Linked DNA regions of Homo sapiens: all the other regions are linked to region 3. Evidence: fine-mapped expression QTL. A gene starts in region 3. Each other region holds a variant in brackets. All regions are shown on one strand. Distances are between the middles of the regions.

Region 1 (8,282 bases), 98 kb after region 3:
AGCTTTATGTGTCTCCATGATTATTCCCTTAAAATAAATTCCTAGAAATGAAATTACTAAGTCAAAAAACATAAAAAATGTTTTCCAACCATTCTTATGTATTGCCATGTTCAAATTAAAAAAATTTTTTTTTGTCCACAGGAAAAGATTTTGCAAGCTCCTTCTTGACTAAGCTATTACTCGGAGCAGCAGGCCTTGGCTGGACCAGCCTGGCCTCTTGAGTAACAGAAGACCTTGGTCCAAATCTTAGCTCCTGAAGCTAGACGTGGTGGCTTGCGCCTGTAATCCCAGAACTTTGAGAGGCTGAGGCAGGCAGATCAACTGAGGTCAAGAGTTCAAACCAGCCTGGCCAATATGGTGAAACTCTGTCTCTACAAAAATACAAAAATGAGCCAGGCATGATGGCAGATGCCTGTAATCTCAGCTACTTGGGAGGCTGAGGTGGGAGAATCACTTAAACACAGGAAGTGGAGGCTGCAGTGAGCCAAGATAGCACGATTGCATTCCAGCCTGGGCGACAGTGAGACTCTGTCTCAAAAGAAAAAAAAAAACCACACACACACACTAGAACCTCAGCTCCTGAATATGTGGGCTTGGGCAAGCTACTTAACCTGCTTTAGTCTCAATTGTTTAATTCCTCTGTAACAAGGTCAATACCCACCTACTTCGTAGACTTGTTGGGAACATTAAGCTAAAACACACATAGAAGTACCTGGAGTAAGGCCAGGCGCAGTGGCTCATGCATATAATCCCAGCACTTTGGGAGGCCGAGGTGGGTGGATCACTTGAGGTCAGGAGTTGGAGACGAGCCTCGCCAACATGGTGAAATCCCATCTCTACTAAACATACAAAAAGTAGCCAGGCATCATGGCACATGCCTGTAATCCCAGCTACTTGGGAGGCCGAGGCAGGAGAATCGCTTGAACCCAGGAGGCAGACGTTGCAGTGAGTGAGATTGCGCCACTGCACTCCAGCCTGGGCGACAGAGGGAGACTGTCTCAAAAAAAAAAAAAAAAAAAAAAAAAAAGTACCTGGTGCATAGTAAGCACTCAAATTATTTCTATTCTTCCTAACTTTATTCTGCTGAAAAAAAATTCACTTAATACCATGAAATGAGAGACGGAATAAATTTTATATATTATACTTACATGCATGGTTTAAAACAGAAAATGTGCCAGACCTCCTTACTTAAATATATTTAGGTGACAATTATGAATATTTGGATTCAGAGTTGCCAAACACCCCCATATGCTCATCATTGGACTGTGGCAGCATAATGTCTAGTTTTCTACTTTGGTTTATTTACCACATGATAATTTTCTTCTTATTTATTGTTTTTTTTCTAAGACAAAGTCTAGCTTTGTCACCTAGGCTGGAGAGTAGTGGCACACTCTTGGCTCACTGCAGCCTCCTGGGTTCAAGCAATTCTCCTGCCTCAGCCTCCCAAGTAGCTGGGAGTATAGGCACCTCGCACCACGCCTGGCTAATTTTTTATTTTTAGTAGAGCGGGGGTTTCATCATGTTGATCAGGCTGGTCTTAGACCCCTGACCTCAAGTGATCTGGATAATTTTCAATTATAAACCAGTGGCCGGGCGCGGTGGCTCATGCCTGCAATCAGCACTTTGGGAGGCCGAGGTGGGCGGATCACGAGGTCAGGAGATCGAGACCATCCTGGCTAACACGGTGAAACCCCGTTTCTACTAAAAATACAAAAAAATTAGCCGGGCATGGTGGCAGGTGCCTGTAGTCCCAGCTACTCGGGAGGCTGAGGCGGGAGAATGGTGTGAACCCAGGAGGCGGAGCTTGCAGTGAGCCGAGATGGCGCCACTGCACTCCAGCCTGGGTGACAGAGTGAGACTCTGTCTAAAAAAAAAAAAAAGAAAACCAGTAACCTAAATCTCATGGTTGTTATCAGGCTAGTGAAAAGACTCATCAGTTTAAGAAAATGCTCCCTGAAAAGCTGTTTCACAAAAGCTTTTTGAAACACAAAAGACCCTTCCAATTTATGAAGACGCTGCTTCATTTAGTGGGATTTTATCACCAGTCAACTAAATGTTCTTCCCTCAACATCTTCCATGACAGCCATCCATACCTCACCTCTTCTTCATTTAGATAAACCAGAAAAATATCCGCAGCTGACAGTAAAGAGAGACCTAGCCTTCTGGTGGGTTTCCCAGTAATTCTGTCTCTCAATTTCTCCACACAATATTGTGATATAGAAAATCTATTGAGATTCTAAGTTAGATGTGGCTATCTTTAGTTCTGATTTTCTACTTCATGTTTGTCAAAAGCTATTGTATTACCTATATTTTTCCTTCAGTTCTTTTTGAGACAGGTTCTCACTCTGTCATCCAGGCTGGAATGCAGCGGCGTGATCTTGGCTCACTGCAACGTCCACCTCCTGGGCTCAAGCGATCCTCCTCCCTCAGCCCCCCAAGTAGTTGGGACTACAGGCGTGCACCGCCATGCCCGGCTAGTTTTTGTTTTTTTTGTAGAGACAGGGTTTTCTCCATGTTGGTCAGGCTGGTCTCGAACTCCTGACCTCAGGTGATCTGCCCACCTCGGCCTCCCAAAGTGGTAAGATTATAGGCATGAGCCCCCATGCCCTGGCCTTTGTCTTCAATTCGTAAGTAAACATCTCATTTCATGTAAAACTCACTCCATGTACTCCTATAGAAGCCCTTTTTGGATGATTCTCAGAGTATGCTGGAGAAATACTTCCTTCAAATCAGTGGTTCTTTTTTTAAAACAGGGTCTCACTCTATTGCCCAGGGTGGAGTGCAATGGTGCCATCACGGCTCACTGCAGCCTCAACCTCCCGGGCTCAGGTGATCCTCCCGCTCAGCCTCCCAAGTAACTGGAACTACAGGTCCATGCCACCATCCCCAGTTAATTTTTCAATTTTTTGTAGAGATGGGGTATCGCTGTGTTGCCCAGGCTGGTCTCAAACTCCTGGGCTCAAGTGATCTTCCCACCTCGGCCTCCTAAAGTGCTGGAATTACAGGTATAAGCCACCACATCTGGCCACCAGTGGTTCTTAAAATGCACATATACACAACATGTTGAATAGACGTTTAGGAGTTGATGTCCACCCCCTGCCCCACCCCCGAAGCCCATCCAGTATGAAAACTAGCCAGCAAGGCAGCAAAGTTCACTTCAGAAATGCAGATTCTCTGTCACAGTTTATAATTATGAACACAACACACACAAGTATTTCCAGTTGTAAAGGTCCCTCCCACCTTCACCAAAGCCAGCCGGATGCAAGAACGCCTGGTCTCCTTACCACAGAGCCGGTGGAGGGACTTCTCTGAGTAGGTGTCTCGGTCGCAGCCTTTCCCTATGTGGCTGGTTTCTAGCTCCACTGTGGCCTGTACTGAGGCGACTGGCTCGTCACATGTCTCCAGGTGGATATTTGGAAAGACGGCCAACGCGCCGGTGCCCGGCTCATACTCAATCCTGTTGTTCCATCCTGTGTTGGTCCACAAGTCAGCAGGGGAAGAGAGAAGGAAAACACACACTCTAGGTTGCTGCCGCATACATCAGTTTTAAGAGCAGATGTGAGCGCAGGGGAGAGAATGAAGCTCACCTTGCCACCCAGGGGTGCAGGTGGGCTTAATGCTGATCTTCACCAAAACATCTTCTGTGGCTCTTTTCTTCCCACAGTCATAGGCAGTGACGGTCAGCTTATATTGATGTTCTTTCCCGTAGTTTAATTTCTCTGTGTTTTTTATATAACCTTACAGAGGGCAAAAACAACAGTGAGAGCCAAAACCCATGCTGGTTTTACTTTTGTTGTCCTAGGCGGAAAGACAAAATGCATAGGCTTTAAGCCCTGTAAATACTCAGCCAGAAATAAACATATGCTTGGGATGCTTAACCCTCAACCTGTCCTCCCTGAGCCCTAACACGCACTAAATCCATCCTGAAGAGTTTCAACAGAAGAGACGGAGCTACACAGCTCAGTCTCCACTTACTCTCACAGTGTTACATTGGGCTTTACATTAAGATTTAACTGTTTACATACATTCAGAGGATTAAAAAATAATAATAATTCAAGTACCTCAAATATTAAATATAAGATCGCTGATCAAACATTTACTATATTAAAAGAAAGAGAGATTTCCTAC[C/T]CCCACCTGCTTAGAACAGAAGCCTGCTTTTTGAACGTGGTGAGTATAGATCTCTGGAAAGTGTTTGCAATGTCCATAATTCCATCAAAGATTCTAGACCGTGCATTGATTAACAATGGAAACACTGTATTATCTTTTTTTTTCTTTTTGGAACAGGGTCTCGTTCTCTTGCCCAGGCTGGAGTGCAGTGGCCTGATCTCGGCTCACTGCAACCTCTGCCTCCTGGGTTCAAGCGATTCTCCCACTTCAGCCTCCCAAATAGCTGGGACTACAGGTGTGTGCCTGCAGTCCCAGCTACTAGCGAGGCTGTGGCGGGAGGATCCCGTGAGCCCAGGAGTTCGAGGTTACAGTGAGCAGTGACTGCACCACTACATTCCAGCCTGGGCGACAGAGCAAGACCTTCCCTCAAACAAAAAAAAAAAAAAAAAAGATGTCACAGGAGATTCTAACTTAATGGAGAACATGGCCAGGCGCGGTGGCTCACACATGTAATCCCAGCACTTTGGGAGGCCAAGGTGGGCGGATCACCTGAGGTCAGGAGTTCAAGACCAGTCTGGCCAACATGGTGAAACCCTATCTCTACTAAAAATACAAACAACAACAACAAAAAATTAGCTGGGCGTGGTGGTGGGCACCTGTAATCCCAGCTACTCGAGAGGCTAAGGTAGGAGAATCACTTGAACCCGGGAGGCAGAGGTTGCAGTGAGCTGAGATCGCACCACTGTACTCCAGCCTGGGGAACAGAGTGAGAAACTGTCTCAAAAAAAAACCACAAAAACAAAAACAAAAAACTTAATGGAGAACAGAAAATGAGACAAACTAAATGTAAAGGTCAGTCTCATTCAGATGCATGTGGACTGAAAGTTAAGAAGATTAAAAAAACAAAGCCATGTCAGGTAGGAGGATTTTTATTTGATTTTGGTGGGAAAGCAAAAAAGAGGTGAGCCCCACAAGAGAACACAGGACTTACAGGTTCCAGAGAAGAAGTTGTCAGGGAACAAAGTAGAAACTTAAATGTTTTTACAATTAAAAGCAAACACACACCAGGTTAGGTCTCCAACTTGTGAGTTCCATGAAGTTCTGACGAAGCACAGAAGCTGGGGTGTAAAGTCAGTGGGGTTAGCAGGGACTGTCTACCTAGCTGAAAAGCCGGCTCCTCGATTCTTACCATCTTTGTCAACAGTAAAGGGCACGTCTGGAGTGATGATTTCGTAGCTGCAAATCTGGCTGAACTGAGGGGAGCAGTCGGCATCCACGGCCTCCACCCTCAAAATGCTGTCGTACTGCTTCCCCTCGATGACCGTGGCTTTGTAGGACTTCTCCTTGAACACGGGCGCGTACTCATTCACGTCGTTCACCTGAATATGAACAGTTGCTCTGGACAAAGGGAGGGAGAAAAATATTTTTCTGCTTGTTTTCAGTGTGAGAGAGAGACAGAGAGTGTGTATGTGTGTTTACCCAATTCTGCCCTACTTTAAAATTTCCTGTTTCTGATACCTTGTTTCATGAAATTCATATGATGAAGTCAAAAATTAAACAAGCTATTCACTGCTTTTCATTCAAGTGTGGAGATAACAGAAAGTTAAAAGAGGGATTTGGGTCGATTCTTCCATATCCTAAGAATAAAGCAAAAAACCAATCATCTAAAATAAAAGAGACTTGGGTGTTTTTTTTTGACAATATGGGACAAGACAGGCAGAAGGGAGATAAACAATACCAGACGTCTGTTTGCTCTCCAATTATAAAGTTGAAACATATTTTGTAGCAAAATCCAGAAAAAAAATAGAGCCAAGGGAAGAAGGGGTATGAAACAGAGAAAGCATGAAATGGTTTGATTCTGAGAGTTCAAACGAATTCTGTCCTACTTCTAGGGAATAGGCTGGAGTCCATGGCATCACCTGGTCCTGATTCAACAAATGGAAGAGTTCAGGAGAGGCAGGCCGTTGCCACCTGCCAATACCCCAGCTCAGTTATCAAGAAAATTAGGGTGTCATCAGACCTGGCTACAAATAAAAAAAACTGTAGGTTTCAAGGGCTAATGGTCAGGGCATGCTTCTGAATCAGTCAAGGACTTTGGTCAAAATCTGACCTTTTCAAGGGAAACAATAACATTACACTGTGGAAAAAGAGAAGAGACTCACTGGGGCACTGCACCTTCTGCTCACCATGAGCCTCCTCATCCCAGTGCCATCGGTCTGACCCTCACAATGGGTTATGTGACACCATCTCGCCCACATACCCTTCTTTAGTAGATGTGCTAAGTAGAAACTGAGACTCAGGGCCGGGTGTGGTGGCTCACACCTATCCCAGCACTTTGGGAGGCTGAGGCAGGAGGGTCACCAGAGGTCAGAGTTAAAGACCATCCTGGCCAACATGGTGAAACTCCGTCTCTACCAAAAATACAAAAATTAGCCAGGTGTGGTGGAGCGTGCCTGTAATCCCAGCTGCTTGGGAGGCTGAGGCACGAGAATCGCTTGAACCCTGGAGGTGGAGGTTGCAGTGAGCCGAGATTGTGCCACCGCACTCCAGCCTGGGTGACAGAGCGAGACTCTGCCTCAAAAAATAAGTAAATAAATAAATAAATAAAACAAAAGAAAAAGAAACAGACTCAACAAAATTAAATTTGCACAATGCCAAAGGGCTAGCAAGTGGTGGAGAAAAGACTAGAGCTCTAGAAAAGACTAGAGCTTACAATCTAATTGTAGAAGACACTGGACTTGAGAACACCAGCAGTCCCCAGCCTTTTTGGCACCAAGGACTGATTTCATGGAAGGCAATTTCTCCACAGATGGGGGTGGGAGGATGGTTTTGGGATGAAAATGCCCCACCTCAGATCATCAGGCAGTCGATTCTCATAAGGAGCGCACAACCTAGATCCCTGGCATGCTCAGTTCACAACAGGGTTCGCGCTCCTGTGAGAATCTGATACCGCTGCTGATGTGACAGGAGGTGGAGCTCGGGCAGAAATGCTCACTCGCTCACATGCTGTTGACCTCCTGCTGTGTGGCCTGGTTCCTAACAGGCCACGGACCAGTACTGGCCCACGTCCTGAGGTATGGCGACCCCTGTTCTATGTTGTCTTGTCCAAAGCCCTCTCTGCTACAACTGCAGTTCCTAACTGGCAGGAGGTGCAGCAACACACTCAGGATTGTGGCAGCGAGCCAGCCTACTTCCACCAGCAGTGACTAATTTTTTTTTTTTTTTGAGACGGAGTTTCATTCTTTTTGCCCAGGCTGGAGTGCAATGATGTGATCTTGGCTCAGTGCAACCTCCACCTCCCAGGTTCAAGTGATTCTCCTGCCTCAGCCTCCCGAGAAGCAGGGACTACAGGCGCGTGCCACCATGCCTGGTTAATTTTGTATTTTTAGTAGAGACAGGGTTTCTCCATGTTGGCCAGGCTGGTCATGAACTCCTGACCTCAGGTGAAAATCACCTCAGGTGATCTGCCTGCCTCGGCCTCCCAAAGTGCTGGGATTACAGGCGTGAGCCACCGTGCCTGGCCAATTTTTGTTGTTATTGTTTTTTAGGGACAGGGTCTCATTCTGACACTCAGACTGGAGTACAGTGGCACAATCATGGCTCACTGCAGCCTCAACCTCTCGGGCTCAAGCAATCCTCCCGCCTTAGCCTCCCAAGTAGCTGAGACCACAGGCATGTGCCACCATACCTGGCTGTTTATGTTTTGTAGAGATGGCATCTCCTACATTGTCTAGGCTGCTCTCAAACTCCTAGGCTCAAGCAATCTTCCCACCTCAGCCTCCCAAAGTGCTGGGATTATAGGTGTGAGCCACTGCACCTGGCCAACAATGATTAAGTTTATGCCCTTAGGAATTACAGCAAAAGATAAATATGACAACAAAATAACCTTCCTAAGGGAGAAGCAGACTTTTTCAATTTTTAATGTAGGGCCTTTACTTCTTTAATAGAGTATTTGGTGTGATAAAATTATTCACTCATTCATTTATTAAAAACCTAGGCCGGGTGTGGTGGCTCACGCCTGTAATCCTAGCACTTTGGGAGGCCGAGGCAGGTGAATGATGGGGTCAGGAGTTTGATACCAGCCTGGCCAACATGGTGAAACCCGTCTCTACTAAAAATACAAAAATTAGCCAGGCGTGGTGGCAGGCACCTGTAATCCCAGCTACTCGGGAGGC
Region 2 (8,282 bases), 30 kb after region 3:
TGGCCAACATGGTGAAACCCCGTCTCTACTAAAATACAAAAATTAGCCAGGTGTGGTGGCGTATGTCTGCAGACCTAGCTACTTGAGGAGATGAGGCAGGAGGATCGCTTGAACCAGGGTGGTCAAGGCTGCACTGAGCCAAGATGGTGCCACTGCATTCCAGCCTGAGTGAAAAAGTGAGACCCTGTCTAAAAAAAAAAAAAAAAAAAAAATTACAGCAGAGGCTGCATCTGGGAATTATAGGCCGTGATCTTCCAGATCGTGCATGCGGATGTTTTAAATATATATGCCATATGTTTTATAAATGTGTTTATTCATGCATACTGTACGTTTTTAATTACATGGAATCAACACAAGTTAGTTATTAAAAGTTTATAAAATATAGATTTGGCAGAGTAAGAAAAAAAAGAATCTGGGCCGGGCGTGGTGGCTCATGCCTGTAATCCCAGCACTTTGAGAGATCCAAGGCAGGCAGATCACCTGAGGTCAGGAGTTCGAGACCAGCCCATGGTGAAACCCCGTCTGTACTAAAAATACTAAATTAGCTGGGTGTGGTGGCGCCTGCCTGTAATCCCAGCTGCTTGGGAGGCTGAGGCAGGAGAATCACTTGAGCCCGGGAGGCGGAGGTTGCAGTGAGCCAAGATCGCGCCATTGCAGTCTAGCCTGTGCAACAAGAGCGAAACTCCATCTCAAAAAAAAAAAAAACAAAAACAAAAAAACAAAAATCCGGCCGGGCACTGTGGCTCTCACCTGTAGTCCTAGTACTTTGGGAGGCCAAGGCAAGAGGATCAATTGAGACCAACCTGGGCCATATAGGGAAACCCTGTGTCTACAAAAAACAGCAACACAAAAACTATCCAGGCATGGTGGCACACACCTCTAGTCCCAGCTGCTCGAGAGGCTGAGGCGGGAGGATCGCTTGAGTCCGGGAGGTTGAGGCTGCCATGAGCCTATTATGGCATTGGACTCCAGTCTGGGTGACAGAGCCAGACCCTGTCTCCAAAAAAGAAAAAGAAAAAAACTCCATCTTCCACCTACCCCAGAACCACGTCACCCAGTGGTTCCTAACCTGTCTCAGATTTTAAATCCCTTTGAAAACCTGCAGAAAAGCATGGACTCTCTCCAGAAAAAGGCTCTTTCATCCACAGACTCTGTTGGTGTGCAGGGAAGGACTGTTTAGGTCCAACCTCTAGCTTCTCTGTCGTATGAGATTCTGACTCTGAAACCAACCTCAAAGGGGCAAATCATTCTGACCCTGTGACACCTCTGTAAGACACACTTGCCAGCAACCTATTCAAAGTCTGTCTTGAACCTGTTTCTATTTTCTTTCTTGACCACCTCTTAAAGAAGACATTGCACAAGTTTGCCCCTGCCATTTAAATCCTTTGTCCTAAATTTACAGCCCCTTTCTGGGGCTTTCAGCAAGGATCGACTTTCCTGCGTCTTTGGGTGACTCTCCACTGTATCATCGGCTCATTTCTGGAAGAGGACCATCCTTTGGGGCATGTGTAAGGCCCCTTTTGTGGGAAGGGCCTTGGCTTAGGCACATGGGGAAGCATGCCTGCGAGAGCTGGGTGTGTGAACCTTCTTTCCGGGTAGTCAGGAGAAACTTTTTTTTTTTTTTTTTTTTTTGAGATGGAGTCTTGCTCTGTCGCCCAGGCTGGAGTGCAATGGCACGATCTTGGCTCACTGCAACCTCCGCCTCCCAGGTTCAAGTGATTCTCCTGCCTCAGCCTCCTGAGTAGCTGGGATTACAGGCACGTGCCACCATGCCTGGCTAATTTTTGTATTTTTAGTAGAGACGGGGTTTCACGGTGTTGGCCAGGCTGGTCTTGAACTCCTGACTTCAGGTGATCCGCCCACCTTGGCCTGCCAAAGTGCTGGGATTACAGGCGTGAGCCACCGCGCCTGGTCTGGGGGAAATTTCTATAGAGGATGAGAAGTCAGGGATGTTGACTTCTCATGCTGGGCCTCAGGTGCTTGAGACCAGTCAGGCTCTCCCTGTGAAATTAGCAAGAACTCACCCTTTGGCCAAGTAGGCTGAGCGCCCCACACCCACATCGCCTGTTTACCTCTCAATATTCTCCCAGGCCTTGGTTAGCCGCCCTTAGCCCATGTCCTGTTTCTCAGGCATGAAGAAGGCCCCTGATGTCAGCATCACAGAGCTCTCCCAGCCCTACAGGTGGCCAGCCTTCCTGGAGACCACTCCTGGTGCCATTCCTTGGGCACCAGTGACTTTGCCTCTTCTCCTCCTCCTCTTCTTCCTCGTCATGTTTTAGCATAAGAAGCTTTATTGAGCTAGAATTCACATACCATACAATTCATTTAATGTGCACAATGCAATGGTTTTTTGTTGCTGTTGTTGTTATTGTTTTCGTTTTTATTTTTGAGATGGAGTTTCACTCCTGTCACACAGGCTGAAGTGCAGTGGCGTGATCTCGGCTCATTGCAACCTCTGCCTCCCGGGTTCAAGTGATCCTTCTGTTTCAGCCTCCCGAGTAGCTGGGATTACAGGCGCCCACCACCACACCGGGCTACTTTATGTATTTTTAGTAGAGATGGGGTTTCACCATGTTGGCCAGCCTGGTCTCGAACTCTTAACCTCAGGTGATCCACCCGCATTGGCATCCCAAAGTGCTAGGATTACAGGCATGAGCCATCATGCCTGGCCTAATGGTTTTTATTTTTATTTTTAAATTTTTTGTAGAGATGGAGTCTTGCTATGTTGCCTAGGCTGGTTTCAAACTCTTGGTGTCAAGTGATCCTCCCACCTCGGCCTCCCAAAGTGCTAGGATTACAGGTGTCAGTCACCAAACCCCGCCTCAGTGGTTTTTAGTATATTCACAGTTATGCAACCATCAGCATCATAAATTTTAAGCTGTGCATGGTGGCTCATGTCTGTAATCCAAGCACTTTGGGAGGCTGAGGCTGAACTCACTTGAGCCTAGAAGTTCAAGACCAGCCTGGGCAATATAGTGAGACCCTGTCTCTATTAAAAAAAAAAAATTAAAACATTTTCATCACTCCAAAAAGAGATTTCACACCATTAGCAGTTACTCTCTACTTTTCTTCCATCTCTCAGCCTCTGGCAACCACTAATCTGCTTTCTGTCTCTATGGATTTGCCTGTTCTGGACATTTCATATAAATGGGATGATACACTATGTGGTCTTTTGGGGTTGAGTTTGCACCTTAGCATATTGCCTTTAGAAACCTGTCTGCCTCATACCATTACAGAGGAGCTGTTGTTTGTACTGACCATTTAGTCCATCACAGGTATTGATGGAGCCTCTAAGCATGGAATAGTGCTGGCCCCACAGCAGGAACGCGGCAGCCATGGGTGGCGTATTAGTTACTGGTTGCTGTTTAACAAATCACGCCAACACTTGGCAGACTGAACAGCAAGCATTTATGATCCCGTAGTTTCTGTCAATCAGGAATACAGGAGCCGCTTCGTTGGGTGGTTCCGGTCCAGGGTCTCATGAGGCTGCCATTGAGCTTTCAGTGGAGGCTGCAGGTGTCTGGGGCTGGAGGTACCTGCCACAGCGTGGTTGGCAGGCTCAGTGACTGGCTGGCTGTTGGCCAGATATCTCAGTTCCTCTTCATGTGGGCTTCTTCATAGGGTGGCTTGAGTGTCCTTATAGCATGGCCACTGGCTTACCCCAGAGCAAGAGATGAGAGCACTGGAGAGAGACAGAGAGAGAGAGAGAAGAGGGGAGGGGAGGGGAGGGGGTGTATAAGCCCAAGACTGAAGCCCCAGTGATGTTTCATAACCTAATTTTTTCATTAATTAATTAATTAATTTTAGAGATAGGGTCTCTGCTGCCCAGGCTGAGGTGCAGTGGCACAATCAGAGCTCACTGCAGCCTCCAGCTCCTGGGCTCAAGCAACCCTCCAGCCTCACCCTCTCAAGCAGCTGGGACTACAGGTATGCATCACCATGCCTGGCTGCTGCTGCTGCTTTTTTTGTTTGTTTGTTTGAGACGGAGTCTCACTCTGTCACCCAGGCTGGAGTGCAGTGGCGCAATCTCGGCTCACTGCAACCTCCCCTTCCCGGGTTAAAGCGATTCTCCTGCCTCAGCCTCCCGAGTAGCTGGGACTACAGGCGTGCGCCACTAGTTTCTGTATTTTTAGTAGAGATGGTTTCACCATGTTAGCCAGGCTGGCTTGAACTCCTGACCTCAGGCAATCTGCTCGCCTC[C/G]CCGCCTCGGGCTCCAAAAGTGCTGGGATTACAGGTGTGAGCTACCAAACCTGGCCCGGATTCTTTTATAATCTAATGTTAAAGGTGCTATCCCATCACTGTGCCATATTCTTTAGGTCACATTGACTGTGAATGTGGGTGGGGGCTACACAACGGTGAGAATCTCAGGACGGAAGTAACTGAATGTAGTTTCATATGGAGAGTGATCCAGCTTGTTCTGGAAGGGACTGCAGTCTCCCCGGGACTTAGCTTTGGAGAATGAGCCAGCTTGTTCTGGAAGGGATTTCAGTCTGCCCAGGACTTAGCTTTGGACCAGCTATGAGTTCTCTGTGATGAAATCTCAGCTTTTCCCAACTGCAGCTTCAACCTCCTGAGTTCAAGTGATCTTGTTGCCTCAGCCTCCTGAGTAGCTGGGACTACCACCACGCCTGGCTAATTTTTGTATTTTTTGTAGAAATAGGGTTTTGCCACGTTGGCCAGGCTGGTCTCCAACTCCTGAGCTCAAGCGATCTGCCTGCCTTGGCCTACCAAAGTGCTAGGATTACAGACATGAGCCACCACACCTAGCCAAGGCTGCGTTTTTATTTTTTATTTTATTATTAGTATTATTTGAGACAGAGTTTCACTCTTGTTGCCCAGGCTGGAGTGCAGTGGCGCCATCTCAGCTCACTACAACCTCCGCCTCCAGGGTTCTCCTGTCTCAGCCTCCTGAGTAGCTGGGATTACAGGCATGCCACTACACTTGGCTAATTTTTGGTATTTTTAGGAGAGACGAAGTTTAACCATGTTGGCCAGGCTGGTCTCGAACTTCTGACCTCAGGTGATCTGCCCACCTCGGCCTCCCAAAGCGCCGGGATTATAGGCGTCAGCCACCACGTCTGGCCTGGGTATTTATTTATTTATTTCGAGACGGAGTCTCGCTGTCTCACTCTGTTGTCCAGGCTGGAGTGCAGTGGCACGATTTCAGCTCACTGCCATCTCCGCCTCCTGGGTTCAAGCGATTTTCCTGCCTCAGCTTCCCGAGTAGCTGGGATTACAGGTGCACACCACCACAGGTGGCTAATTTTTGTGTTTTTAGTAGAGACAGGGTTTCACCATGTTGGCCAGGCTGGTCTCAAACTCCTGACCTCAGGTGATCCACCCTCCTTGGCCTCTCAAAGTGCTGTGATTACAGTCATGAGCCACCACTGGGGTTTTAAATGTGTAACAATGGATGTCCATTTTAGTGGGAACTGACCCTGTCCCTCAGGGACACTCATGGGCCAACCAGGAAAGGAGATGTCTCTGCTGACTTCTGTTAGATGGTGTAACCCATCATAGGGGTGACCCAGTGCCATGGTGGGACGTGTCAAACGCTTTCCCCACTGGGATTGGGCCCTGGACCTTTTTTTTTTTTTTTTTTGGGGGGCTGGGTCTCGCTAAGATGGCACCACTGCATGCCAGCCTGGGTGACAAAGGGAGACATTGTCTCAAAAAAAAAAAAAAAACCAAAAAACCAAAACAGGCTGGGCATGGTGGCTCATGCCTGTAATCCCAGCACTTTGGGAGGCAGAGGCGGGCGGATCACCAGGTCAGGAGATTGAGACCATCCTGGCTCACACGGTGAAAACCCATCTCTACTAAAAATACAAAAAATTAGCCGGGTGTGGTGGCGGGAACCTGTAGTCCCAGCTACTCGGGAGGCTGAGGCAGGAGAATGGCGTGAACCCGGGAGGCAGAGCTTGGAGTGAGCCGAGATCGCGCCACTGCACTCCAGCCTGGGCGACAGAGTGAGACTCTGTCTCAAAAAAAAAAAATAAAAACAACAACAACAACAACAAAAAAAACGAGCCTTGTGCCTTATAGCAGTGGGACAACTTGGTGTTAGAAGCAGTTTTAGGTGGTGGTTCCAGGTGGGTTCTGATTCCTGCTCTGTCACTTCCTGCACGGCTTCGGCGTCAGTTTCCTCATGAAGATGACTATTGTAACTATTTAGTGGGGTTGTTTTGAGGATTTTATGAGATCTTCAGAGTTCTAGGGATCTCTTGCTACATAACAGCCTGTCCCAAGCTCAGCGGTATAAAGCAACACTGTGATGCTCACGGTCCCAGGGGCCAGGAATTCCGACAGAGCTCAGCAGGACGGCCTGGCTCTGCTCCCATGATATCTGGAGTCAGCTGGGAAGACTCTCAAGGGGTTGGTAACAACTTGAACAGGTGGGGTCTGGAATCATCTGGAAGTTTCATCACTCATGTCTGGTACCTGGGTGGGATGACGAAGGTTGGGCTCAGGTGGGACTGTCAACTTGAGTGCCTTCACATGGTTTCTCCTTCTGGCTTGCTTGGGTTGTGTCACTGCATGGCAGCGTCAGGGTAGTCAGACCTCTAACTTAATGCTCAGAATTCCAAGAGCCAGCATTCTAACCAAGGAGGAAGCGGCATGGCTTCTCATGGCCTCACCTCTCAAGTCACTTAGCATCTCTGCTGCCATACTCTCTTGGCAGTCACAAGCCCACTAGATTTAAGAGGAGGGGACACAGAGGCCATCTCTCAATGGGAGGAGTCCCTGCAACCACGAGCCACACGTGCTTTTTGGCTGATACTTGAAAGAATGAGCAATGCAGGCTGGGCGCAGTGGCTCACGCCTGTAATCCCAGCACTTTGGGAGGCCAAGGAGGGTGGATCACCTGGGGTCAGGAGTTCGAGACCAGCCTGGCCAACATGATGAAACCCCATCTGTACTGAAAATACAAAAATTAGCTGGGCATGGTGGCAGGCCCCTGTAATCCCAGCTACTTGGGAGGCTGAGACAGGAGAATCGCTTGAACCCAAGAGGCCGAGGTTGCAGTGAGCTGAGATGGTGCCACTGTACTCCAGCCTGGGCGACAGAGAGAGACTCCGTCTCAAAAAAAAAAAAAAAAGAAAAAAGAAAGAGCAATGCAGTTGGGTGTGATGGCTCACATCTGTAATCCCAACACTTTGTGAGGCTGAGGCAGGCAGATCCCTTGAGCCTAGGAGTTTGAGACCAGCCTGGACAACATAGCAAGACCTCAAGACCTCATCGCTACAAAAATTAAAAATTAGTTGGGCATGGTGGCACACACCTCAGCTACTCGGGAGGCTGAGGTGGGAGGATCACCTGAGTCCACAAGGTCAAGCACCTGTGATAGCGCCACTGCACTCCAGCCTGGGTCACAGTGTGAGACCCTGTCTCAAAAAAAAAAAAAAAAGAAAGAAAAAAGAAAAAAGAATGAGCAATGCAAACCCAAGCTTTTTTTTTTTCTCTCTCTGCTTATATCCCCAACCCCTCAACTCCTGCCCCAGGTCACAAACTCAGGAAGCCTCAATTAAGACAGACTTTTAGTCTAAGCTTGGAGAATTGAGGAAGGAAAGAAGGAAGTGCCAGATGCTAATTAACTTTGCTTTTTAACTACAGATGAGCCACTTTTTGAGTTACCCAGGGGTGAGAGTCTCAAAGATAAATGAAAATATGTAAGGATGGCAGGAGAGCATGGGCCTCTTATAATTAGGTCCCTCATTCTTGTGCTTTGAGAATAAAAATATCAAGGGTGGAATATGTGAGTAAATATGGAAACTCCTTTGAGGATTTTTTTGGAGCCCTCCTGTTTATTCTAATAGAATTAAAAGCAAACATGTAACTGGTTTTTTTGTTTGTTTGTTTGTTTTTGGTTGTTGTCTTTAGTTGCTTTTTTTTGGTTATACTTAATTTATTTTTTTATTTTTTGAGATGGAGTCTCGCTCTGTTGCCCAGGCTGGAGTGCAGTGGCTCGATCTGGGCTCACTGAAACCTCCGCCTCCCAGGTTCAAGCGAATCTCGTGCCTCAGCCTTCTGAGTAGCTGGGATCACAGGCATGCACCACCACACCTGGCTAATTCTTGTATTTTTAGTAGAGATGGGGTTTCACCATGTTGGCCAGGCCAGTCTCGAACTCCTGACCTCAGGTGATCCGCCCTCCTCAGCCTCCCAAAGTGCTGGGATTACAGGCGTGAGCCACTGCGCCCAGCAGTTATAATTAAAAATTTTTTAAAGAGATGAGTATCTCACTGTGTTGTCCAGGCTCGAGTGCAGTGACTATTGACAGG
Region 3 (8,282 bases):
GGTTACAGTGTTTGCTTTGTTTGAATCAGTTGGCCACCTAAGATCTACTAAAGCTCAGCTGCTATAACTGACAAAAACTCAGCTATTTGCTACATGTATATACTCTTAAGTTAATTAGTTTCATTTACCATGAATGACTCCATATTGGTTTGGTCTGTTGGACCCGGTACAGGGGTCTTGTCCCAATCAATGGCCTCCTGCAAATTTTATTTAACAGGCAGAAAAGGGGAGATGATAGAAAGATCTCTTCATCTGCCTGCTGCTTCTTAATTGCCTTAAGTTCAAAAATATTTACGTCAAAGAGGTATATTTTGGGGGGACATATTCTGGTTTCCTTCATGGGGATCAAAGAGAACAATATGTAAGGCACATCTTAGCGCTTGACAACTTGGCATGCCTCCATTCTCCCGGCAGCATCTTGCATAGTAAAAAGCATGATTTGAATTGCTGTCAGCAAATACATATTCAATGAAGAATTCCTTTGGAAGATGCAAAACCATTCGTCATCTGGCTGTTTCTTGAAACAAACTCTAAAGACCAGAGGGCAGCGTTGAAAGTGCAGCCTAGCAAAAGCATGGTTAAGGCCAGGTGTTAGGAAACCTTAGGACGGGCCGCTCCCTCAGGACAGGCTGCTCACTCGGCCGTCAGAGTTCCTTCTGAAACGTCCATTTGTCTTCTGGCTCTTGGCATCCTTGAAACAGGCTAGAGACCGCTGCTAAGGCTCAGTAATCTGAGCCTGGGGTAAGCAAGAGGCTGTGAGCCTCAGACACTCCACTAGAAAGGATATACTAGTGTGCATTCCTGGGGACAGGCCCAACGTTCCTTCCAAAAGGGACCTGTGGTCCTTCCTGGCTCCTCTGCAAGTGTCCACTGGAGAACACAGAATCTGCAGCCTGCATCTTAGAAAACCTGGACCAGGCCGGGCGCAGTGGCTTATGCCTGTAATCCCAGCACTTTGGGAGGCTGAGGCGGGCAGATCACCCGAGGCCTGAGTGTGAGACCAGCCTGGCCAACATGGTGAAACCTCGTCTCTACTAAAAAATACAAAAATTAACCAGCCATGGTGGCACGCATCTGCAGTCCCAGCTACTTGGGAGGCTGAGGCATGAGAGTCGCTTGAACCCGGGAGGCCAAGGTGGCAGTGAGCCAAGATCATGCCACTGCACTCCAGCCTGGGTGACAGAGCAAGACCCTGTCTCAACAAACAAACAAACAAACAAAAAAAGCAAAAACAAAAAAAACTGGAACAATTGAGCAAGCCACTCCATCTTACCCAAGCCCTCTCCCCTTTCCTGGCTGGAATAACGGCCTCTGGGCCTCTCTCTCGCTCTTTTTCTTTTTTTTTCAAAGCAGAATCTCACTCCATCACCCAGGCTGGAGTGCAGTGGCACAGTTATGGCTCACTGCAGTCTCAACCTCCAGGGCTCAGGTGATCCTCCCACCTCAGCCTCCCGAGAATCTGGAACTACAGGTGCACACCACTAAACCCGGCTAATTTTTTCTATTTTTTTGTAGAGACTGGGTTTTGCCATATCACCCAGGCTGGTCTCAAACTCCTGGCCTCAAGGGATCCTCCAGCCTCGTCCTCCCAAAGTGCTGGGACTACAGGCCTGAGCCATCATGCCTGGCCTGGGCCTCTGCTTATTGCAGCCTCTGGAGCCAGCACGGGGCCCAAGGTGGTCCTGAGAGGCCCAGGCATCTCTTGGGTAGAAAAAGTCCTTCTCTAAGCCTCAGATCCCTCATCTGTCCAAGGGACCAATAACAGCTGCTTTACTTCCCAGGCTGGATTGAAGAGGGTCCTTTAAGCCATTGTTTCACTAAGCAATTGACTGGCTCACCCTTCACCCTATCCTGGGAGGGCATGAAGCCACTGTTGTAATCTCAGGGGTGGGCTCACCCACCACCCCCATACTCTTGGTCCACCAAAGCCTGGAGGTCGCTGCTGTCAACCCAGGGCTGAGCAAGGAGGGACTTAGGCCCTGGGCTGTCTCCCCGAGCCTCTCAGTCATGCCTGCTGTAGGGGAGGAGAGAGTGGCCTCCCTCTACCCTCTAAATTCCTTGGCTGGGCTCCACATTAAATTTACATAAGGCAGATTAACAAGAGAAAAACCATGTGTAACTAAGACCTATGCATGGGAATCCCACAAAATACAAGACTGGATGAAGGCTCAGATGAATAAAGCTCATATAACATCCTACAAGGGACAGGAAACATTCCTTCAGAAAGGAATAGGGCTTGGGTCAGGTGTGGTGGTTCACGCCTGTAATCCCAGCACTTTGGGAGCCTGAGGCGGGTGGATCATGAGGTCAGGAGTTCAAGACCAGCCTGGTGAACATGGCGAAACCCCACCTCTACTAAAAATACAAAAATTAGCCAGGCACGGTGGTGTGCACCTATAGTCCCAGCTACTCAGGAGGCTGAGGCAGGAGAATTGCTTGAACCCAGGAGGCTGAGGCTGTGGTGAGCCAAGATCACGCCACTGCACTCCAGCCTGGGCAACAGAACAAGATTCCTCAAAATAAACAAAACAAAGAAACAAAACAACAAAAAACAAACAAAAAAACATGAAAATCAGCTGGGTGTCGTGGCGTGTGCCTGTAATCCCAGCTACTTGGGAGGCTGAGGTAGGAGAATTGCTTGAACCCAGGATGCAGAGATTGCAGTGAGCCGAGATGGCACCACTGCATTCCAGCCTGGACAACAGAGCAAGACTGTCTCAAAAAAAAGAAAAGAAAAAAGAAAAAGAAAGAAAAGAAAAGAAAAAAAGGAATAGAGGCTTGGGATCCTGGGGAGGTGGTACACAAGTTAAGGGAGAGTGAGGGGAGAGAGGGTAAGGTGAATGAAGCTTGTCTTCTTATGCGGATAAAATTTCTCAGGTAAGAAAAGTTAGCTCTGAGCAGCCCTCCGCCTGATACTAATACTTTACCAATGGAGATTTTCCTTTTCTTTTCTGTTTTTGAGACAGGGTCTCACTTTGTTTCCCAGGCTGGAGTGCAGTGGTGCCATCATGGATCACTGCAGCCTCCATTTCCCTGGCTCAAGCCATCCTCCCACCTCAGCCTCCCGAGTAGCTGGGACTACAAGGTGTGCACCACCACGACTGGCTAATTTTTAATTTTTTTGTAGAGACGGGGGTTTCCCTATGTTGCCCAGGCTGGCTTGAATTCCTGGGCTCAAGTGATCCTCCCGCCTCGGCCTCCCAAATTGCTGGGATTGCAGGAGTGAGCCACAGTGCCAGGCCTGGAGATTTTCTTTATAGATAGAAATCATTTTACAAAAGGACAGCTTTTCAGATCTACTCCTGTGCCTGCAGTTTCTAAGAATAATCCCTTCAAAATATGGCGAAGAAGTATATTTTGGGGTGGCACACGCTGGTCTCCCATAGTCACATTTTGGGTGTGTGTCCTGAGCCCCAACACTGGTCACCTCGCAATGGCGCTTGGGGTCCCTGGGTGCCTAGAGCTGCAGGTTACCCCCTCTTCTTCTCCTGCTCTCAGCCTTTCTCCCGCTCCTGCTGAAATTCTTTCCTGCGTGAAGGCGGAGCGCTTAAAGGCGCCTAGGACCTTTATTTCGTTGTTTTCCTTTGCATAAAAAGAAAACTTGTTTTGTAGAAGGGCAAGCAAGGTGCAGCTTCCAGAGGCACCTGGGATGATGCCCCTCTAGCGGTAGGCGAACTGGGGAGTGTGGGCGGCGGGGGAAGGCGAGGCCCTGGAGGACCTGTTGTTTTTCCTGTTGCAAGTGAAAAGGAAACAAAGTGGGAAGTGGAGTGTGCGGGTTGGCGGCAGGCGGGGCGCCCCGGCGCGCCCCGCCTCCCTCCCTCGAGGCTCACTCGCGCCCAGCGCAGTCGCTCCGAGCGGCCGCGAGCAGAGCCGCCCAGCCCTGCCAGCTGCGCCGGGACGGTAAGCGATCGCCGCTGGCTGCGTCAGGGGAGGTGGGAAGAGGACCGCGGCCAGGGGCTTTGGGAGCTGCGGCTGCGCTCGGGGGCGCGGGGCTGGCTGGCGGGCGTCTCTCCGGCACACACAGCCCGTGCGCCCTGGCCCTGGGCGCCTCCCCGAGTCTAGCGAGCCGGGTCCTGGGAGCCCCGGGGGCCGGGCTGCTGGGACCTGGGCGGGGGCTGCCCTAGAGGCCCGGGGCCGTCCCCCGTGGGCCCGCCGAGAGGGGCGTGCGCAGCTCCCCGGCGCCTGCACTGCGCGCCTTGCCCGCCTGGCCCGGCAGCGGGGTTTCAGCTGCGCTCACAGCGGCGGTGCGGCCTCCGGTGCGCCGGCTGAGGCGCGAGGATACTGGAAGCGCTCAGCGCGTGCGCCCGCTCCGAGCGCTGACTAGAGGACCAGGGGCCTCCTCTGTACGGCAGCGGGGTCCACAGAGAGCGCGCTGGTGATGTCGCCCGAGTGCCCTGGCGCGGAGAGAGGGCTGCGCACAGTTCGCCGGCGCCCGGGTCCTGTGCGCCCTTCCCAGCCTGGGCAAGTGGGGAGCGGGGCTGCAGAGGGGCCGGGGTGGAAGTTTTCGGGGCTTCCTCCCGGCTCGTGGACCCGCGCCCCGCCTCCCAGTCCCGGGCCTCCCGCGTTGCTCGCCGCGTTTGCTGCAGCGGCGCAGGCGAGATCAGCTCCGGATCTGCGGCCGAGCCGGGGTTACGCCGGCAAAACCGCCCCCAGCTTTGCATTTCCGGACTTTTTAAAAAAATACTCTTACCCGTAATTCAGCCTGAATGAGGCTTTTTAAAAAAATCGAGTTTCCTGTTTTTATTTAGGCTTCCTCATTTGCACCTCCTCCTTTGAGGTAGAGAAGAGGGGAACTGGGACGACCTTTCGTGGGCACCAGGATGGGGGCGTTGCAGGGCGGGGAGACGGGGGTCCAGAGAACCGGGGAAGGGCCGCTGGGAGGTCCCGAAAAGTGCGCTGTGGGTGGGGCGAGGGTGAAGCAGGTAGGGGCGAGATTTCCGGGGTCGCGGGTGGGGGGCGCCCTGGAGCGGCCAAGGTGCAGGGTCCTCGCGTGGCACCCTTGGGATCTGCCCAGTTTGCGGATGGAGCGCGGGGCTGATCGGGCAGGTCTCACTTGTGCAGGTGTTCCCTGGAAGGTGGGACCTGCAGATCTTGAACCCCACCAGACTCCATCAAGGGGGCTTCTTCCCGCCGATTCCTGAGAAGTCCTACCTCTGAGATGCTGGGCACAGCCGCACGTGGATGTGGGCGGGTGTGCCGTGGGTTGGAGTGGGAAGGGGCAATTATTCCTCTCTCAGGGCTCTCGGAGGGGAAGGTTTACTGCTCCCTAGGGACTTTGAAACCAAGGGCTAACCCCCTGCTCTCTTCCAGGAGAGTGGGATACCGCCCGGGTGCCTGACGGTGCCTTGGTGTTCTTGACAATTGAATGGTACCATCGGGACATTACTCCCCAAAGAACTGGTCGTTCTTACCTAGGTGATTTCAGCTGGACAACTGTAGGAGCTGAGTGGTGTTGTCTTCATTTTACAGTTAAGGAAACGAAGGCTCAGAAAAGTTAAATAACTCACCAACCCACACAGTTTACAAGTAGTTTCTCCAGGATCCCAGCTCTTTCCGACGCCAGCGCGTTTAATCATCTGGGGGTGCCGTTGCTTGCGGGGGAAGGAGAATGTCCTAGTAATTCTCTTGGGGGGGATTTGGAGGGGACGACTGTTCAGAGAGGCACCCTCTAAGATACCCTTGAGACTCCTCTGTAACACCCGCTGCTGCTGTTCACACCCCCTCCCCAATTTGATTGATGTGTTGAGTGGGGCGGAAGGTTCTTTTGGTTGATGAGGCTGCGACCAAACGCAAGGAGATATAAATAGAGCTTTCTCTTTGGCTCTCTCTAGAGCAGAAATGCCAACCCCTTAGCATTTCCATGGCCTGCTGGAGTTTCATTTCTTGATATTAGGATTCCAGCCATCTTGGCTGGTGAGAGGCCTGCTGGCGGCTTCCTGGGCTTGGTCCTCTTTTGGTGCTTTCACAGAATGATGGAAGACACTGGAGTGGGCTGGAGGAGTGCTCTTAAAACCCAGTTGTGGCTGAGAGCGGTAGCTCATACCTGTCATCCCAGTGCTTTGGGAGGCCCAGACGGGAGGATCACTTGAAGCCAGGAGTTCAAGGTTGCAGTAAGCTATTACAGTGCCACTGCGCTCCAGCCTGGGTGACAGAGCAAGAGCCCATCTCTGAGAAACATAATACAACAACCCAGTTGCCTGCTCCAGAGACAACTAAGCTAGCCTCCTTCTGAGCCCCACTTCCCCCGCCCTTCAGCCCCTGTTCAGAAACAGACTACATTGGCCACACTACTCACTTAGATGTTTCTGGAATTAGGGCACGTGCCCCAGAGGTACTCCCGACCACGCAGATGTCCCCTTCTGGCAGGAAAAGCGCGTTTCTGCGTTTCTGCAGCCTCAGTCCACGCCGCCAGGTCTTTGCACTAAGCTGTGGGCTCCGTTTCTCCTCCGATACCATGTTTAGCAAGTGTTTCCTGAGATCACACGGGGTGCCAGGGGCTGTGCTAAGAACAGGGCAGGCAGACTGGGAGGGCATCAGCCCCTGGGGGGCTTACAGGACAGACAGTCCACCAATGGTTGTGCGAAAGCCAGCCCGCTTTCGCACAACTGTCCGATGGAATTCATGGAGGTGGGAGTGGGGATGGTGAGAGTCGGTTCCTGCTTCATCTTGTTTTACTTAAATTGCACAGTGAAAGGGAGAAGTGAATGTGCAACGGATGAAGCAATTCCCCTTTGGCTGGGTTATTTTCAAAACCATTTTTGTGTAGAGAGCAGTTCCCGCCCTCCCTGAGGCCAGCTGCCGGTGTGGGCCTGATGGTGGGGTTTGGGGCCCCAGCAAATGTTTCCTTAACGTGGGACCTTCAGAAGGCTCTTTCAGGCTGGGCGCGGTGGCTCACGCCTGTAATTCCAGCACTTTGGGAGGCCGAGGTGGGCGGATCACTTGAGGTCAGGAGTTCAAGACCATCTTGGCCAACATGGTGAATATCTGTCTCTACGAAAAATGCAAAAAAAAAAAATTAGCTGGGCGTGGTGATGAGCACCTGTAATCCCAGCTACTTGGGAGGTGGAGGCAGGAGAATCGCTTCAATCCGGGAGGTGGAGGTTGCAGTGTGCTGAGATTGTGCCACTGCACTCCAGCCTGGGCAACAGAGTGAGACTACATTTCAAAAAAAAAAAAAAGAAAAAAAAGCTCTTTCAGCCAGGAGGGTGGCTTCAGCTACTCCCCAGGGGACAAGTGTGTTTTTCAGCAAAGCTGTTAGAGAAGATGGTCTAGAAGCAGTACCCCGGGATGGAGGAGACAAGGAAGGGCCCTATCCACTGGAGGATGGCAGAGCCTGGCTTGTTTGAAAGGGAGGAAAATATTGTCATCTTGGTACCGGTGACAGTGTTTCATAAATAGCGAAGGTGGCAAAACGCCACCTCTCTCCCTACAGTTAACGCTAAGACTGAGTTGTCTTTAGTTTGGTTGGTGGAAATCCCCGGCAATCATAGCAGAAATGCTGCCAGTTTCAAGATGGAAAAAATAAAAAACCCAGGAACCCCCCGCCCCCCCCCCTTTTTTATTGCAGCTAAACACTGTGACTTGCTGTGGGTCCTACCAAAATAACGGCCATTCTCCCCTCCCTGAGGGCCAGCACAGTCCCTAGGGCCTGTGAAAGTTCCCCTTCCAGCTGCACTGGCTGGATATGCGTGAAACTCCCCTCCCTCCCCAGAAGTCACAACCTTACCACCTCGGATAAGGGTCAGGGCTCCTGGAAATGGGTCCCTTTTCCTATTACTTTCTTTCTTTTTTCTTCTTTTTTTTTTTTTTTTTTGAGACGGAGTCTCGCTTTGTCGCCCAGGCTGGAGTGCAATGGTGTGATCTCGGCCCACTGCAACCTCTGCCTCCAGGTTCAAGCGATTCTCCCACCTCAGCCTCCTGAGTAGCTGGAATTACAGATGTGCGCCACTATGGCCAGCTATTTTTAGTATTTTTAGCAGTGACGGTGTTTTGCCATGTTGGCCAGGCTGGTCTCGAACTCCTGACCTTAGGTGATCTGCCCACCTTGGCCTCCCAGAGCGCTAGGATTAAAGGCGTGAGCCACCATGCGCGGCCTTCCTATTACATTCTGAGCACAGGGGGAGTGATCAGAGTGAAGGGTGTGGCATTTCCAAAGTGGTATTTCGGTTGGCTTCTGTTTCACTCATATTGGGGGAAATTGCTTCCACTTAGAGAAAATGCCGGAAGAGTGGGCGGTGCCAGGAGTAGGGTGGGGGAGGAGGAGATGCAGAAAGGGATAGACC
Region 4 (4,000 bases), 71 kb after region 3:
TGGCTGCCAGGACGTGGGCTCTGGGTGGGGCCTGAACCTTCCCGTGGGCTTGCTCCCTCCTGCCTGGCCTCCCTCTGGCTGCCGAGGGAGCTCCCTCCTGTCCTGAGTCGGGGAGCTCCAGGCCCCAGCGCCTTCCTTCCCTGCAGGGACGATGAGCTGTTCCAGTACCTGCTGCAGCTGGTGCAGGTGCTCAAGTACGAGTCCTACCTGGACTGCGAGCTGACCAAATTCCTGCTGGACCGGGCCCTGGCCAACCGCAAGATCGGCCACTTCCTTTTCTGGCACCTCCGGTAGCGGGACTTGCCCCAGCCGTTCTGTGGGAATCCCAGCCCCTGAGTCTCCCTGGAAGGCCACTGGGGACGTTTCCAGCAGGCCTGGGTGTCCTGGCCTCGCTAGGTCCTGCTGGGCGGGAGGGGCTGCGTGGTGCTGCCTGGTGAGGCTCAGCCCTCCCTTCACCTTCCAGCTCCGAGATGCACGTGCCGTCGGTGGCCCTGCGCTTCGGCCTCATCCTGGAGGCCTACTGCAGGGGCAGCACCCACCACATGAAGGTGCTGATGAAGCAGGTGAGGCCCAAGGCCCTGGGGGGCGGGCAGGGGGCGGCCCTGAGCGTCTGGGAATCCCCAGGGCTGGGTCGAGGCTGGGACCTGCCCACCGCCGCCCTCCCATCTGCCCACCAGGGGGAAGCACTGAGCAAACTGAAGGCCCTGAATGACTTCGTCAAGCTGAGCTCTCAGAAGACCCCCAAGCCCCAGACCAAGGAGCTGATGCACTTGTGCATGCGGCAGGAGGCCTACCTAGAGGCCCTCTCCCACCTGCAGTCCCCACTCGACCCCAGCACCCTGCTGGCTGAAGTCTGGTGAGCCCAAGCCCCGCCACAAGGGTTCCTCCCACCCCTGGGAGGCCGGTAGAGGAGCCCCTGCTGACTGCCCGCTCTCTGGCCTGGCAGCGTGGAGCAGTGCACCTTCATGGACTCCAAGATGAAGCCCCTGTGGATCATGTACAGCAACGAGGAGGCAGGCAGCGGCGGCAGCGTGGGCATCATCTTTAAGAACGGGGATGGTGAGGGCCTGGCCTCCCCACACCCCGCCTGTACTGCCCTGGGGGGTCCTGGGGTGCTCCTAGAGTGGGGGTGGAGAAGACAGAATCCTGGGACTTAAGGGCTTGGGTGTAGCTGGAAGCAGAGAACCTACCAGAAACTCACGCTTCTCCTCCCACCGGCCGGTGGCACAGACCTCCGGCAGGACATGCTGACCCTGCAGATGATCCAGCTCATGGACGTCCTGTGGAAGCAGGAGGGGCTGGACCTGAGGTGAGGACCCCCACCCCACATCGTCCCTTGGTGTCTGTGCCCAGCCTGGGAGTCTGTGCCCCTGGAGGGGTCCTTGTTGAAGGTGGCATGACCATCTCAGCCGGGGAAAGGGCTTTCCTAGGAAGACCCGGAGGCGGTTTAACTCTAGGCCAGGAGGCGGCGGGCAGCAGGATGCGTGAAGGCTGCTCCTGAGGCTTAGTGTGTACCCTGCTCTGTTGCTTTAGTTGCCCAGGTGCCCCTGGCTTCCCCAGCCCATCTTGGGAAGCAGTGGCGTCTTCTCCCAAGGCCTCTGTCTGGTTCTCTTCCAAGCAAATGTGAACTCAGCTGTGGTGCTTTCTGCACCTCAGATGCTGGTGCCGGCATCTCCAAGGAGCCAGCATCTCTCACCTGCTTTTTAGCAATGTGGGCAGCAGCATCTTCTGTGGCTTTTTGGGGCACCATGAGTTTCTGGGGCTCAAGTGGCCTCAGGGACAGCCCTTGACCATGCCATTTGCCCGTCCCTCTTCCCCCTTGCCTAGGATGACCCCCTATGGCTGCCTCCCCACCGGGGACCGCACAGGCCTCATTGAGGTGGTACTCCGTTCAGACACCATCGCCAACATCCAACTCAACAAGAGCAACATGGCAGCCACAGCCGCCTTCAACAAGGATGCCCTGCTCAACTGGCTGAAGTCCAAGAACCCGGGGTGGGTTTCAGGCCCAGGGATAGGTTCCCTCTCCTTTCCAAGAGGTGTGGAGTG[G/A]GAGGGCCTCGCCTGTCAGAACAAAGGAGCGGGGAGGGGCCTCAGACCATCTTTGTGGCTACTTGGCTCAGTTGAGGACCAGCCTGTGTCTGGGTTGGGGTGAGGTAGGTCTCTCTTCCCCAAGTATCAGTGTCTCTTGCTATGCAACACCATCCAAAGCGCAGGGCTTTAAAAAACAGCCATTTACGATTGGCTCACAGATCTGCAGCTGGGGCTGGGCTCAGCCGGGTGGCTTTTCTGCTGGTTCCACATAATCACTCATGCAGCTGTTCTCATCTGGTGCCTTAACTGGGCCAGTGGGGTCTGAGATAACCCATCTCATTCCTGGGGCCTTGGCGCCAGCTGTCTGTGATGCCTCTCTGCATGTGGTCTCCTCATTTAGCAGCCTCACCTTCCTTCCGTGGCTCTGTATTGAGGGTATGGGGTTCAAGATCTGCAGGGGTCTTCATGCCTTGGCTCTGGAATAGCGTCTGCAAGCGATGTCCAGCATTGTGTCCTCCATGTTCTGTTGGTCAAAGCAAGTCACAGGGCCAGATTCAAGGGGAGAGGGAGTAATAACCCACCTCTTGATAGGCGGAGCTGCAAAATGGTATGGCCATGCTTTTTAATCTTCCCCACCCAGGGAGGCCCTGGATCGAGCCATTGAGGAGTTCACCCTCTCCTGTGCTGGCTATTGTGTGGCCACATATGTGCTGGGCATTGGCGATCGGCACAGCGACAACATCATGATCCGAGAGAGTGGGCAGGTACAGGGGCTGGTGCTGGCGGCTGCTGTGGGGACTTGGCTTCTGGCCCCAGCCTGCTGGCCCCTCTGCCTAGCACACAGCTCTGTGGCAGGGGTCCCCCAGCCCTGCTGGCTTCCTGTCTCCCCTGGATTCTCTCCTGTCTGACACCTTCTCAATCCTCCCCCTCCTCTCCCCTCCCCTCAGCTGTTCCACATTGATTTTGGCCACTTTCTGGGGAATTTCAAGACCAAGTTTGGAATCAACCGCGAGCGTGTCCCATTCATCCTCACCTACGACTTTGTCCATGTGATTCAGCAGGGGAAGACTAATAATAGTGAGAAATTTGAACGGTGAGAGTGCCTGAGCCCCACCAGATGCCCCTCGGTGTGGGGCCCCAGGGAACAGGGCAGAGGTTCCCAGGCAGGGTGCAGGATGGGGCTCAGGTCTCAACCCCACACCTGGCCCCTCACCCCAACTGTTGATGGGTTTGGAACATGCCCCTGCTCCACCCTGCAGTGCCCCTTTTGGGCAATGTGGGCAGGTTTGTGGGTCATGTAGCAGGAGGCTGGCTGGGGCACGGGGGTCAGTTAGCAGAACTGGAGGCCTTGTGTCCACCCATTATCAGGGCAAGGGCAGGTGTCCTTGGGGAAGGGGCTGGTTGGATGCAGAGCGGCCCTCTGGCCTGTGGCTGGGAGTTCCCAGAGCCTCACTTCCTCTGTCCCCTACCTGCAGGTTCCGGGGCTACTGTGAAAGGGCCTACACCATCCTGCGGCGCCACGGGCTTCTCTTCCTCCACCTCTTTGCCCTGATGCGGGCGGCAGGCCTGCCTGAGCTCAGCTGCTCCAAAGACATCCAGTATCTCAAGGTATGTGCCGGGCAGGAGACTGCTGTCGCCAGTGGACTTCCAAGGCCTGCCCCCGAGCAATGTGACCTAGGAGGGCCCTGAATGCAGTAGGCCCCAAAGGGCACTGAGCTGTGTGTGCCTCATGCCGTCCCAGGACCCAGCAGTGGAGCTGGTGGGCGGTGGAGGGGAAAGTGGCTGGACCAGAGTTGAGCCGCCCAGGCATGGTTCCACTCAGTGGCAGATGTGTAGTGACCTCTCCTGGTTGGGGTGCTGTGCTCAGGGCTGCGGGGCTTTCAGGTGTCCACTAGGGGGCCGCGTGAGCGCTGGCTCCCTCTGCCTTCTAAAAGATATTTTTTGGCCAGGCTGGGTGGCTCACGCCTGT

Which allele goes with the higher level. Positions count from the first base shown, and alleles are read on the strand shown. Sizes are in standard deviations (SD) of each study's normalised expression. Not every link is listed here.
In carriers of allele G in region 2, the expression in aorta of the gene that starts at base 3,829 in region 3 tends to be higher than with C alone (small effect, 0.25 SD a copy in GTEx).

What was found. PIP is the estimated chance that this variant, and not a neighbour inherited with it, causes the effect. A credible set is the group of variants that fine-mapping cannot tell apart.
Region 1: its variant is the best candidate, but not a certain one, in a credible set for the expression of PIK3CD in whole blood (INTERVAL, PIP 0.78).
Region 2: its variant is the best candidate, but not a certain one, in a credible set for the expression of PIK3CD in aorta (GTEx, PIP 0.86).
Region 4: its variant is the best candidate, but not a certain one, in a credible set for the expression of PIK3CD in prefrontal cortex (GTEx, PIP 0.79).

Annotation. Positions count from the first base shown.
Region 1 is chr1:9,746,177-9,754,458 of GRCh38, forward strand. It overlaps CLSTN1 (calsyntenin 1), which reads right to left. Exons shown (of 19, transcript NM_001009566.3): 5 at 5,297-5,505; 6 at 3,588-3,737; 7 at 3,285-3,470. Among named protein-coding and RNA genes, the nearest start is that of PIK3CD-AS2, 63 kb to the left of the region's middle. The variant C/T (reference allele first, on the strand shown) is at 4,129.
Region 2 is chr1:9,677,454-9,685,735 of GRCh38, forward strand. All of the region lies in intron 1 of PIK3CD (phosphatidylinositol-4,5-bisphosphate 3-kinase catalytic subunit delta), which reads left to right. The region is part of intron 1 of PIK3CD-AS2 (PIK3CD antisense RNA 2); the gene reads right to left. Among named protein-coding and RNA genes, the nearest start is that of PIK3CD-AS2, 6.0 kb to the right of the region's middle. The variant C/G (reference allele first, on the strand shown) is at 4,201.
Region 3 is chr1:9,647,903-9,656,184 of GRCh38, forward strand. PIK3CD (phosphatidylinositol-4,5-bisphosphate 3-kinase catalytic subunit delta) reads left to right here and starts at 3,829. Exons shown (of 24, transcript NM_005026.5): 1 at 3,829-3,900. It overlaps PIK3CD-AS1 (PIK3CD antisense RNA 1), which reads right to left and starts at 6,684. Exons shown (of 2, transcript NR_027045.1): 1 at 6,296-6,684; 2 at 4,708-6,141. RefSeq lists a silencer at 3,742-4,631 and enhancers at 4,812-4,881, 6,022-6,071.
Region 4 is chr1:9,721,298-9,725,297 of GRCh38, forward strand. PIK3CD (phosphatidylinositol-4,5-bisphosphate 3-kinase catalytic subunit delta) reads left to right here. Exons shown (of 24, transcript NM_005026.5): 15 at 147-290; 16 at 464-563; 17 at 678-856; 18 at 947-1,059; 19 at 1,231-1,309; 20 at 1,828-1,995; 21 at 2,672-2,795; 22 at 2,979-3,124; 23 at 3,507-3,639. Among named protein-coding and RNA genes, the nearest start is that of PIK3CD-AS2, 36 kb to the left of the region's middle. RefSeq lists an enhancer at 1-892 and a silencer at 3,766-3,974. The variant G/A (reference allele first, on the strand shown) is at 2,050.